Homo sapiens: one gene and its partner. The protein of the gene in region 2 purifies or fractionates together with the protein of the main gene of each other region. This does not show direct contact. Each region holds a gene or a part of one and is shown on either strand. Other genes may lie near its edges.

Region 1 (4,448 bases), about 33 Mb from region 2:
TTTTAAGATGTCTCCTTCGTAACATAAATCACCTTTTTATTATGTAATAAGATTAATAAGCTTGTCAAAGACTGTGATCATAGGAACGAAAAGATCATTAGAAGACCCCATAAATGAAAACTTAGTTTCATTTGTTTTTCCTTTGGGCAGCTTTATTGAGATTGTTTGTCTCTTTAAAATACAGAATGGTTCCTGTCATCGATTCGAAATTGTGGGTAGAAAATATGACATGTACCTCTTTTAAAAATACGTCTAAAATTAAGAGCACTTGATTTCTTTTTTTGAAACAGAGTCTTGCTCTGTCACCCAGGCTGAGTGCAGTGGCTCAGTCTTGGCTCACTGCAACCTCTGCTTCCCATCTTCAAGCAATTCTTGTGCCTCAGCACGCGCCACCACGCCCGGCTGATTTTTGTATTTTTAGTAGATACGGGGTTTTGCCACGTTACCCAGGCTGGTCTTGAGCTCCTGACTTCAAGCAATCCACCTGCCTCAGCCTCCCGAAGTGCTGGGATTACAGGTGTGAGCCACCGCACCTGGCCTAAAATGTTCCTTAAATTCCTTAGAGACTAAGTAAAATTACTAAATGTATTAAAATTAACTTGTTTTCTGTTAATAACTACCCATTATTGCCTGTTTACCGTGTGCCAGCTCCTTACATATATTACTTCTTATCCTTCCTGTAACTCTGTGTAGTTAAGAGGTACTTTCTACTTTATAAATGGGATAACTGAGATTCAGGTTAAATAATCCATGCAGAGACACCCAGCTAGTGAGTAACTGATTTAGGATTGAAAATTGGTCTTTCTTTTGCCTTGTAAAGTGGGAAGTTGAGTTTTTAATTTCGTTTTTCACAAGAAAATGCCAGTTTTCAAGGAGTTGGACTCTTTACCCATGACCTTTGGAGATATTGGTGTTAAGTTTCTTGTTGACGTACGTCCATCACTTTTTCGATAGGTCCCACTGGTCAGGTGAAATTAAGCCATAAGCCAGCACAGGCATAGCAAATATTTCTATAGCCACCTTACCTGTGTCTGCTTCACTCACTGATCATGGCTCTCTGGTGGCAACCTTAGAGTACTCAATCTTGTATTTGAGAGCCATTACCAATTGTTCACAATTGGCACTGGGGACAAAAACTTTTTGCCATTTCATGGCCAGAGGTTTTTTAATCCTCATCACACTTTCTCTGCAGGTTGGATTTGATTTATGCCATTTTCCTCATCAGAAGCTTGGGTTTAATTGTAGATGCTTAGTAAATATTCCTCATTAATTTAGGTCAATGGGCCGAGTGTGGTGGCTCACCCCTGTAATCCCAGCACTTTGGGAGGCTGAGGCGGGCGGATTGCCTGAGCTCAGGAGTTTATGACCAGCCTGGGTGTGGTGGCATGCACCTGTAGTCCCAGCTACTCGGGAGGCTGAGGCAGGAGAATTGCTTAAAGGGGGAGTGGGGGGTGGAGGCTGCAGTGAGCTGAGATCACGCCACTTCACTCCAGCCTGGGTGACAGAGTGAGACTCCATCTCAAAAAAAAAAAAAATTTAGGTCAATGAATTGTACTTTTAAAAATAAGTGGTTAATTTTTAAGTCTTAGCAAACATGCTCTTATTTTTATTTCATTCATATTTTTAGGCATTATATATATATATTTTAAACTTTGAGATGGAATATCGATTGTTGAACTACTCTAAAATGTGAATGTATTAGTATTTCATGGGGGCATCCTGATTTTTTTGTTTTTGAGTTCCGCTCGTTTAGATGATGTAATGTATGGCTTATTCTATTTCCAAAAATGTTACTTTAGCTATATGAGGTAATTGCATTTATGAAGAAGAGATCTGAAAAGTATTCTTTATATTTTAAGAAAAAACTTTGTTGGTATATTACTAAAGATGATACTTCTCTTTCACATGATTAAATATTTGCATATGCGTGGCTGGGTGTGATGGCTCATACCTGTAATCCCAGCATTTTGGGAGGCCGAGGTGGGTGAATTACTTGAGGTCAGGAGTTTGAGACCAGCCTTGACAACATAGTGAGAACCCAAAAAATAGCCATGGCGGGCATCTGTAATCCCAGCTACTGGAAGGCTGAGGCAGGAGAATTGCTTGAACCCAGGAGGCGGATTGCAGTGAGCCAAGATTGAGCCACTACACTCCAGCCTGGGCAACAGAGCAATACTCTGTCTTGAAAGAAAGAAAGACAGAGAAAAGAAAGAAAGAAAGTTTTGCCATGTTCTAGTGTTTTGTCTGATGTTAACTGGGTCATTTAAGAAATTGTAGTATAATTTTAAAGTACCTGGGGCCAGGTACGAATAACTCACACTGTAACTCCTTTTTTCTCCCCCCCTTTGTTTTTGAAACAAGGTCTTTCTCTGTTGCCTAGGCTGGAGTGCAGTGGCATGATCACTGCTCACTGCAGCCTCAAACTCCCAGGCTCAAGTGATCTTCCCACTTCAGCCTCCTGAGTAGCTGGAGACTGCAGGTGTGCACCACCACACCTGGCTATCTTTGTATTTTTGTAGAGATAGGGTTTTGTCATGTGCCCAGGATGGTCTTGAGCTCCCTGGCTTAGTGATCCCCCCATGCCCAGCCCACACTGTAGTTCTTGAGTTGATATCTCATTGAACCTGTCAGTGGTGTACAATTAAATTCTTGAAGAAAAGATAACCTTTAAAATTAATGACAATTGTGGTTCAAGCTCTTTTTATATTGCAGTGTCCTGAACGTGACTACATGACTGAATAACCTTTACTAATTCATCTCTCTTGTGTTTTAGATTCTTTCAGTGACCTGTATAGTTCCTATGTAATCTTTTACTTCCTGCTGCTGTCAGTGGTAATAATAATAATAAGTATTTTCAATGTGGAGTTCTATGCAGGTGAGTTTTCAAATGTTAACCTTCTTAGAAATATGCGAATTTATTTAACTAAGGGAAGACTTAGTACATTTTATATGTGAATGTGTTTTGTGTCAAAAATTTAAAAACGTATACAGAATCATATGCTTCAAATGTTGTACCTTAAAATTTATTTGGGTGCTAGTTTCTGTTTTAAAAATATTTTTAGACTTTTTAGGACAAATATTATATGATTCTACTTATACGAGGTATCTGGAGTACTCAAATTCATAGAGAAAGAAAGTAGAATGCTGGTTACCAGGCGCTGGGGGAGGGGGAGTGGAGAATTGCTGTTTAATGGGTAGAGTTGTGGAAGATGGAAAAGTTTGGGAGCTGGATGGTGGTAGTGGTTATACAACAATATGAGTGTACTTATGCCGCAGAACTGTGTACTTAAAAATGGTTCGAATAGTGAATTTTATTATTTTACCACAATAAAAAAATTTAGACCTTTTAATAGTTCATAACTAGTATTAAAGCTGTGATTTAGCAGATACATTATGAAAAGAATTCCTTTATAGGGAAGACCAGGTGATTTCTAAGTTTTTTTTTCAAATATAATAATCTATAATACTGTGATTAAAAAAAAACTTATGTTTTGCCTTGGAGAATCACCTGCTGGATTCCAGAGCTTTTAATTTTTCTGTTTCTCTTCATATTCTTTCTGCCTTTTCAGATTCCTTGAGACTGCCTTTAAGATACAAGTTGTGGCAGATTCACATAAGGAAAAAAAGATACAATAAGAAGCTTTTCCTGACTCTTATTTTTTTACTATAACATCATTTTCCTTTTTTTTTTTTGAGACAGAGTCTCGCTCTGTCGCCAGGCTAGAGTGCAGTGGTGCGATCTCAGCTTACTGCAATCTCTGCCTCCTGGGTTCAAGTGATTCTCCTGCCTCAGCCTCCGGAGTAGCTGGGATTACAGGCACGCGCCACCACGCCCGGCTAATTTTTGTATTTTTAGAAGAGAGGGGGTTTCACCATGTTGGCCAGGATGGTCTTGATCTCTTGACCTTGTGATCTGCCCTCGGCCTCCCAAGTGCTGGGATTACAGGCGTGAGCCACTGCACCCAGCCCATTTTCCTTTTTTTAAACTTAAAAAAAATTTTTTAAATGTACATGTTCCATATGTGCTAACATGTCTAAACCTTAAATTAGTTTATCATAATGTCATGTTTTAGATTTTACATTTCATTGATTATATGAATATTCTGTTTATTTATTTATTTTATTATTATTATCATTTTTGAGACGGAGTCTTGCTCTGTCGCCCAGGCTGGAGTGCAGTGGCGCGATTTCGGCTCACTGCAAGCTCTGCCTCCTAGGTTCACGCCGTTCTCCCGCCTCAGCCTCCCAAGTAGCTGGGACTACAGGCACCCGCCACCATGCCTGGCTAATTTTGTTTTTGTATTTTTAGTAGAGACGGGGTTTCACCATGTTAGCCAGGATGGTCTCAATCTCCTCACCTCGTGATCGGCCTGCCTTGGCCTTCCAAAGTGCTGGAATTACAGGCATGAGCCACCATGCTTGGCCTATTTATTATTTTTTTTGAGAGA
Region 2 (5,269 bases):
ACAATTTACATTTTGATGCCTGAGCAGTATTTTTTATTGTTCCTTTTTTTAGTGCATACATTTAGATATCAAACAAATAAAATAGTTCCAAGGAATAATATAAAAGCCAATTGAGCTGAATCAGACGATATTCCCTAGGGGAGTAGGCTCTGTTCTCCAGGCTGGCCCACAGGGTGGGGCAAGAGAGAAACATTCTGCAAAAGTACATTTTTGGACCATAAACAAAAAATGAAAGGTGCAACCATGGATAAGCCATCAGAGCATGAGAAGTTCATTTGGATCCAATCCAACAGGCAAAACAAGAAGACTTCTCTGGTATCCCCCAGTGGTGGACTTGAACCAAAACCCTTTGAATGAACTTTTGTTTTCCTGCACATCATACATGATTGCCATGGCAAGATACTGATGGGCTACCAAACTTAAGACTCTTGAAAAAAGATTAACTTTGAAACAACAGGGCAAAAGAATATAATTTTGTTAGCAGATCAAACACTTCGGGCTGCCAAGAGGCAGGTCTACTGCCATTCTAAGAATGTAATTTAGGAAAATAACCAAATAGGAAAGATGGAACAACAAAGGAATTTGTTTTTCAAAGGATCCCAAGTGCTGCTGTTTACCTGGCTGGATGCTATACCATCTATAATGTATGATGACGAGGCTCTGAATGCTGTATGTGCAGAATGAGAACTTTTCTCTATTCTGATTCCACTAGGCTTGCAGGCTGGGTCTTCTTGGGACCAAATTACACACGTAAAAGGCATTGGCTGTGCTAGAACTGAGCTGTGCCCTCTCTTCAACCCAGCCTCTTGGGTCTAGGGTCATCTTATAGGTCACAAGTTCAGTTTCCAATTTTTTCTTCATAACTGGGGTCCAAAGGGAAAAAGTGGGTTCGCTGTCACTGCACCTCCCTTCTGATTTTCATTTGCTATTTTAACAGTCCAATCTGATTACTTCAGTGAATAATAAAGCTAGTGACTCTTAGAGGAATATAAGTATGTCATAAGGACATAGAAGCCTGCTCCTGTATGACCTCAGCAAGTGGAAGCCAGGACCAAGGTGTCCAGCGGCTGCCTCCCACCCTTTGCTCAAACATAGACACTATGAGGAGTCTCACAAGGACTCTCTTTTTCCATGTTAACCTGTAGCTATTCAGTATATCAGTGACTCTATAAGAATTTGAGAATATTGTAAGATTAAAAAAAAATTGAACTCAAGGAATCTTACAGATAAGCTTAATATTGATACTACCGCATCATATCACAACAGCTGTTGAGAAGATGATAAAATGTCATGACATTCCTTGTTACCTGCTCCATCATCAAGGAGTCTCAGCGTAACAGGATCTCCAGTCTCTGGCTCAACTGTGGCAGTGACAGTGGCATTAAGAATGGGATAAAATCCCTGTTTCACATTGGCATAAATCATCACAGGATGAGGAAAATGGAGGCTGTCTCTTTCCACAAAGGCTTCCACAGTGGCTGGGGGCACAGCTGAGTTGGAGGCGCGAGAGGTCACTGTCACTTTCAGGGCTTGCAGAGAATGATGGGTATTGTTCAGGGTGTAAGTCCAGTGCCCAGGCTGTAAAACAAGTCTTATTGTTTTGGAAAGTGTGAAAAAAAAATCAACCCTAATTTTAAAGCATACATCAAAACTTCTGGAGAATTTTGCTCTTGTTTTGTTGATGTTGCACTTTTTAAAATACTACAAAAAGATGCCAGGAAAAGTAGCATTGGTTAAGGGATGAATAAATTTGTATTTACATGGCTTTCATAGCATAAGTCACCTTTATTTCTAGATAATTCTTTAGGGAATTACACCTCGAATTTATTTGGAGTGAGGGAGGATACATCTTGATTCCCATTTTTAGAACATAACAATAATAGTGTCCAGCTTCAAAGTACTTTACAGATATTAATCTGAGCCCCTTCCCCAAAAAGGCGTTTAAATGTTTTTCATTTCTTTTCATAACTGAGAAAATTACATCAAATTAATTGGACCATTATAATTTATGTGGACACCGTGGACTAAAAAGGCAACAACATCCTTCTTTCACTCCACTTCCCAAAAACTCCACACTCAGAAATCTCAATCAACAAAAAACACATACACTACTAGGGACCAAGAAAAGGACCTACTATTTTTAATAGGTCAGGATTATACAATATCTAATTTGGGTAATTTATAGAAATACTGCTAAACACTACTCTTGCCTATCTGCCTGGGAAAAACCTACAAAAGAAAATCTGAAAGAAAAAGACTAAAATTACAATATAGCAGAAATTCGTCCTTTTGATTAAGCTATACATATATTGCTTTTCCCTGACTTCTGCTGCTGCTCCTTATCAAACCCCCAGAAGTAACAAGTGAAACACAACAAAGCAGAAGGAAGAACAGAAAAGCAAGGGGTTGAAGCGTAACTCAGGGTGGAGAGTTCAGATGCACCACACCCTAGCCATCTTTCTTCATTGGGATTCATGAGCTTCACTATTTTCCATTAAGTTATGATTCAAGGACTATGTTTTTTTGTTTTTGTTTTTTGAATCATAACATTAGTGACAGATGCATGGCAGGAACTTCCACATCAAAAAGTTCTCTGAGTGTAATAAATGTTTTGATACAGGGCATCTAATCCAGACCAAGAGGTCAGGCAAGGGGAGCAAGAAGTAGGTAAAGTGTCCCTGGCCCTTATACACAGGTGTGAAAAGAACATGATGAATTTGGAGAAAAGTTCAATAGGAGCAGAGCATCGAAGAAGTTAAGAGAGAAGCTTGGGTAGAAGCCAAAACATGAAGGGTCTGGTATGTAAGATTTACCACTTGGGCCTGGTGACAGAGCGAGACTCCATCAAAAAAAAAAAAAAAAAAAAAAAGTTCCCACAGCTCACCACTACAGAAGCAGAGAAGACAACTATGCAGAAAACAGAGTTGGTGGCAGTCAGGAGGAATGCAGCTGGTCTGTTGGACCCCTACTGGATTGGGGGAGTGCAGAAGACACTGGTGAAATCCTCTATACTGAAGACCTGCAGTTGGGAGCAGGGGGAGTCCATGGGTCTGCTGATTTTTTTTCCCTATTTAGTACTAATGTGTGTGTGATCTTTGTTTTACAAAATACCTTTTGGGTTTTCTGCATATTTTAAAATTTTTGTACAGTTTTGAATTCTATAGATCGTCTTGGAAGGATACTGTGTGATGAGCCAGGCACACAGTAATTGGAGACTTTTAATGTGTGTAATATTTCATAGATTGCATGCTATTAATCGTCTGTGAGGGTAGTATTTTTTGTTTTATTATAAGTTTCCCTCATTTTTTTATAAATTAAAAGATGGTTGGTATTAGGAATTTCAAATGAATGCAGAAAATCTTACATGCTCTGTACTATTAATATTATAACAAAGACGATCCAAGTCCAAAATCTGACCAATAAAGCAACCATTTTATCAAGATAGAGGATTCTACCATGGGAGAGGGGATTCTTCCCTCCTGAAGTTTGTGTGTCCAATCCCCTTAAAAAAAATGAATAGTTGTCTTTTCTTGTCATATTAATACTCGAAAGTCCATGGTGATATTAATGAAAGTACACTTTATTGTTGCCTTTGACCTTATGGCCAAGGCAATAAATCAGAAACAAAAATAGTGCCAATGTGTCAAAATCTACAACTGAGAGATTCAGCCTCCCATCTGGAATAAATGCGAATCTTCTAAGCTAAAAAAAAAAAAAAAAAAAAAAAAAGGTTAACACTTGGATTTTATTCTGAAACCACCAAGGAGGTTTTGAACAAAAGACAGACTGATTTGTGCTTCAGAAGGATCGCTTTTATAGAGGTAAAGAATGGACTGGAGGGATGGCAGTTCAGAGTCAAGAAGGCTAGTTAAGGGGCTGTCAAGAAGGTGGTGGGAGCGGTGGCTCATGCCTGCAATCCCAGCACTTCAGGAGGCAGAGGCAGGCAGATCACTTGAGGTCAGGAGTTTGAGAACAGCCTGGCCAACATGGTGAAACCTCATCTCTACCAAAAAATACAAAAATTAGCCAGGCATGGTGGCAAGTGCCTGTAGTCCCAGCTACTCGGGAGGCTGAGGCAGGAGAATCGCTTGAACCTGGGAGGTGAAGGTTGCAGTGAGCTGAGATGGTGCCACTGCACTCCCGCCTGGGTGACAGAGCGAGACTCCATCTCAACAACAACAACAACAACAACAACAACAACAACAAAAGTGGGGGTGGGGCAGCATGTGAGGAGGCACTGAATTCAGGCAGTGCAAGAGTGAATCTGATCAACTTACAGTTCTCCTTAGAACCATCAGTGGTTCCCTTTCACTTTCAGGATTCAAGCCCCTGTTCACTTTACTGTTGTGCAAAGCCCTTGCTAATACAGCTCCTGTTTACCTGTCTAGCCTCACTACTCCCCTCTCCTTCCTTTGCCTACATCCCTAACTTATAGATTACCCTACTCTATTGAACTACTCTAGTTCTATGAACAGCCATGTTCTTTTTATCTGAGTCTTTCTATATGCTGTTTCCTCTGCCCACAATATCATACCCACCTCTGGCCTGTTATTCCTTATATTTCCATTTTGATGTCTTTGCTTCCAGGAAGCATTCTTCCTTCCACCCTCTTGTATGTTCTGATAGTACCCTGTTCATGCTCTTACCATGGCATTTTATTGTAAAGTACCTGGAACAAAACCCAGCACACCCAGTAGATGCTAAAAACCACATGCATTGCATGTATTCATATTATAAATTCTAAGTAGAGATTTTTTTCTAAGCATATAGAAAAGTGTGTTTGTATGGATTATGTAAAGAAATATGTAGGCTAGAAAAACATTAATTGTAATACTAGTGGAAATACTAATTTTCAGTGTTGAAGTATTTGGTGTCTAATATATAAAACTGGGAATATACCTTAGTTATTCCTCTTAAATTTTTAATATTCACAAAATGGCCTCATAAATTTAAAGTAAACTTTTGATATATTAAAACAAGATTTTCTTTACACAATGCATTTAATCATGTGATTCAGCTGAAAATCATAAACTTGGTTGAACGTTGTCCTTAGGAACAAACTCACAACACCTACCTTAGCTGTTCCTGGAATCCAAAGACTAGCTGTCCGAAAAGTTAGATTGGTGATAAAATTATTTGTGTAGTATTTTCGTCCATCAGGATCAAATAATATAATCTCAGGAGGACCACTGGCCTGCCACGTAACTAGAAACATAGTGTCGTTGCCCACAGTATTATCCACAGTCACTGTGTTTTTCAATTGATGGTG

The links. The genes of interacting proteins can lie anywhere in the genome.
Region 1: the proteins of CLCA2 (region 2) and NDC1 purify together in Homo sapiens (affinity purification with mass spectrometry; one large-scale study listed by BioGRID and IntAct). This does not show direct contact.

Annotation. Positions count from the first base shown.
Region 1 is NC_000001.11:53,830,917-53,835,364, reverse strand, and holds part of NDC1 (nucleoporin NDC1), read left to right. Parts: intron 1-2,773; coding exon 2,774-2,875; intron 2,876-4,448. UniProt on the Homo sapiens protein: Component of the nuclear pore complex (NPC), which plays a key role in de novo assembly and insertion of NPC in the nuclear envelope.
Region 2 is NC_000001.11:86,443,817-86,449,085, reverse strand, and holds part of CLCA2 (calcium-activated chloride channel regulator 2 preproprotein), read right to left. Parts: coding exon 5,075-5,269; intron 3,703-5,074; coding exon of another isoform or gene 3,565-3,702; exon of another isoform or gene 3,560-3,564; intron 1,579-3,559; coding exon 1,308-1,578; intron 1-1,307. UniProt on the Homo sapiens protein: Plays a role in modulating chloride current across the plasma membrane in a calcium-dependent manner, and cell adhesion. Involved in basal cell adhesion and/or stratification of squamous epithelia. May act as a tumor suppressor in breast and colorectal cancer.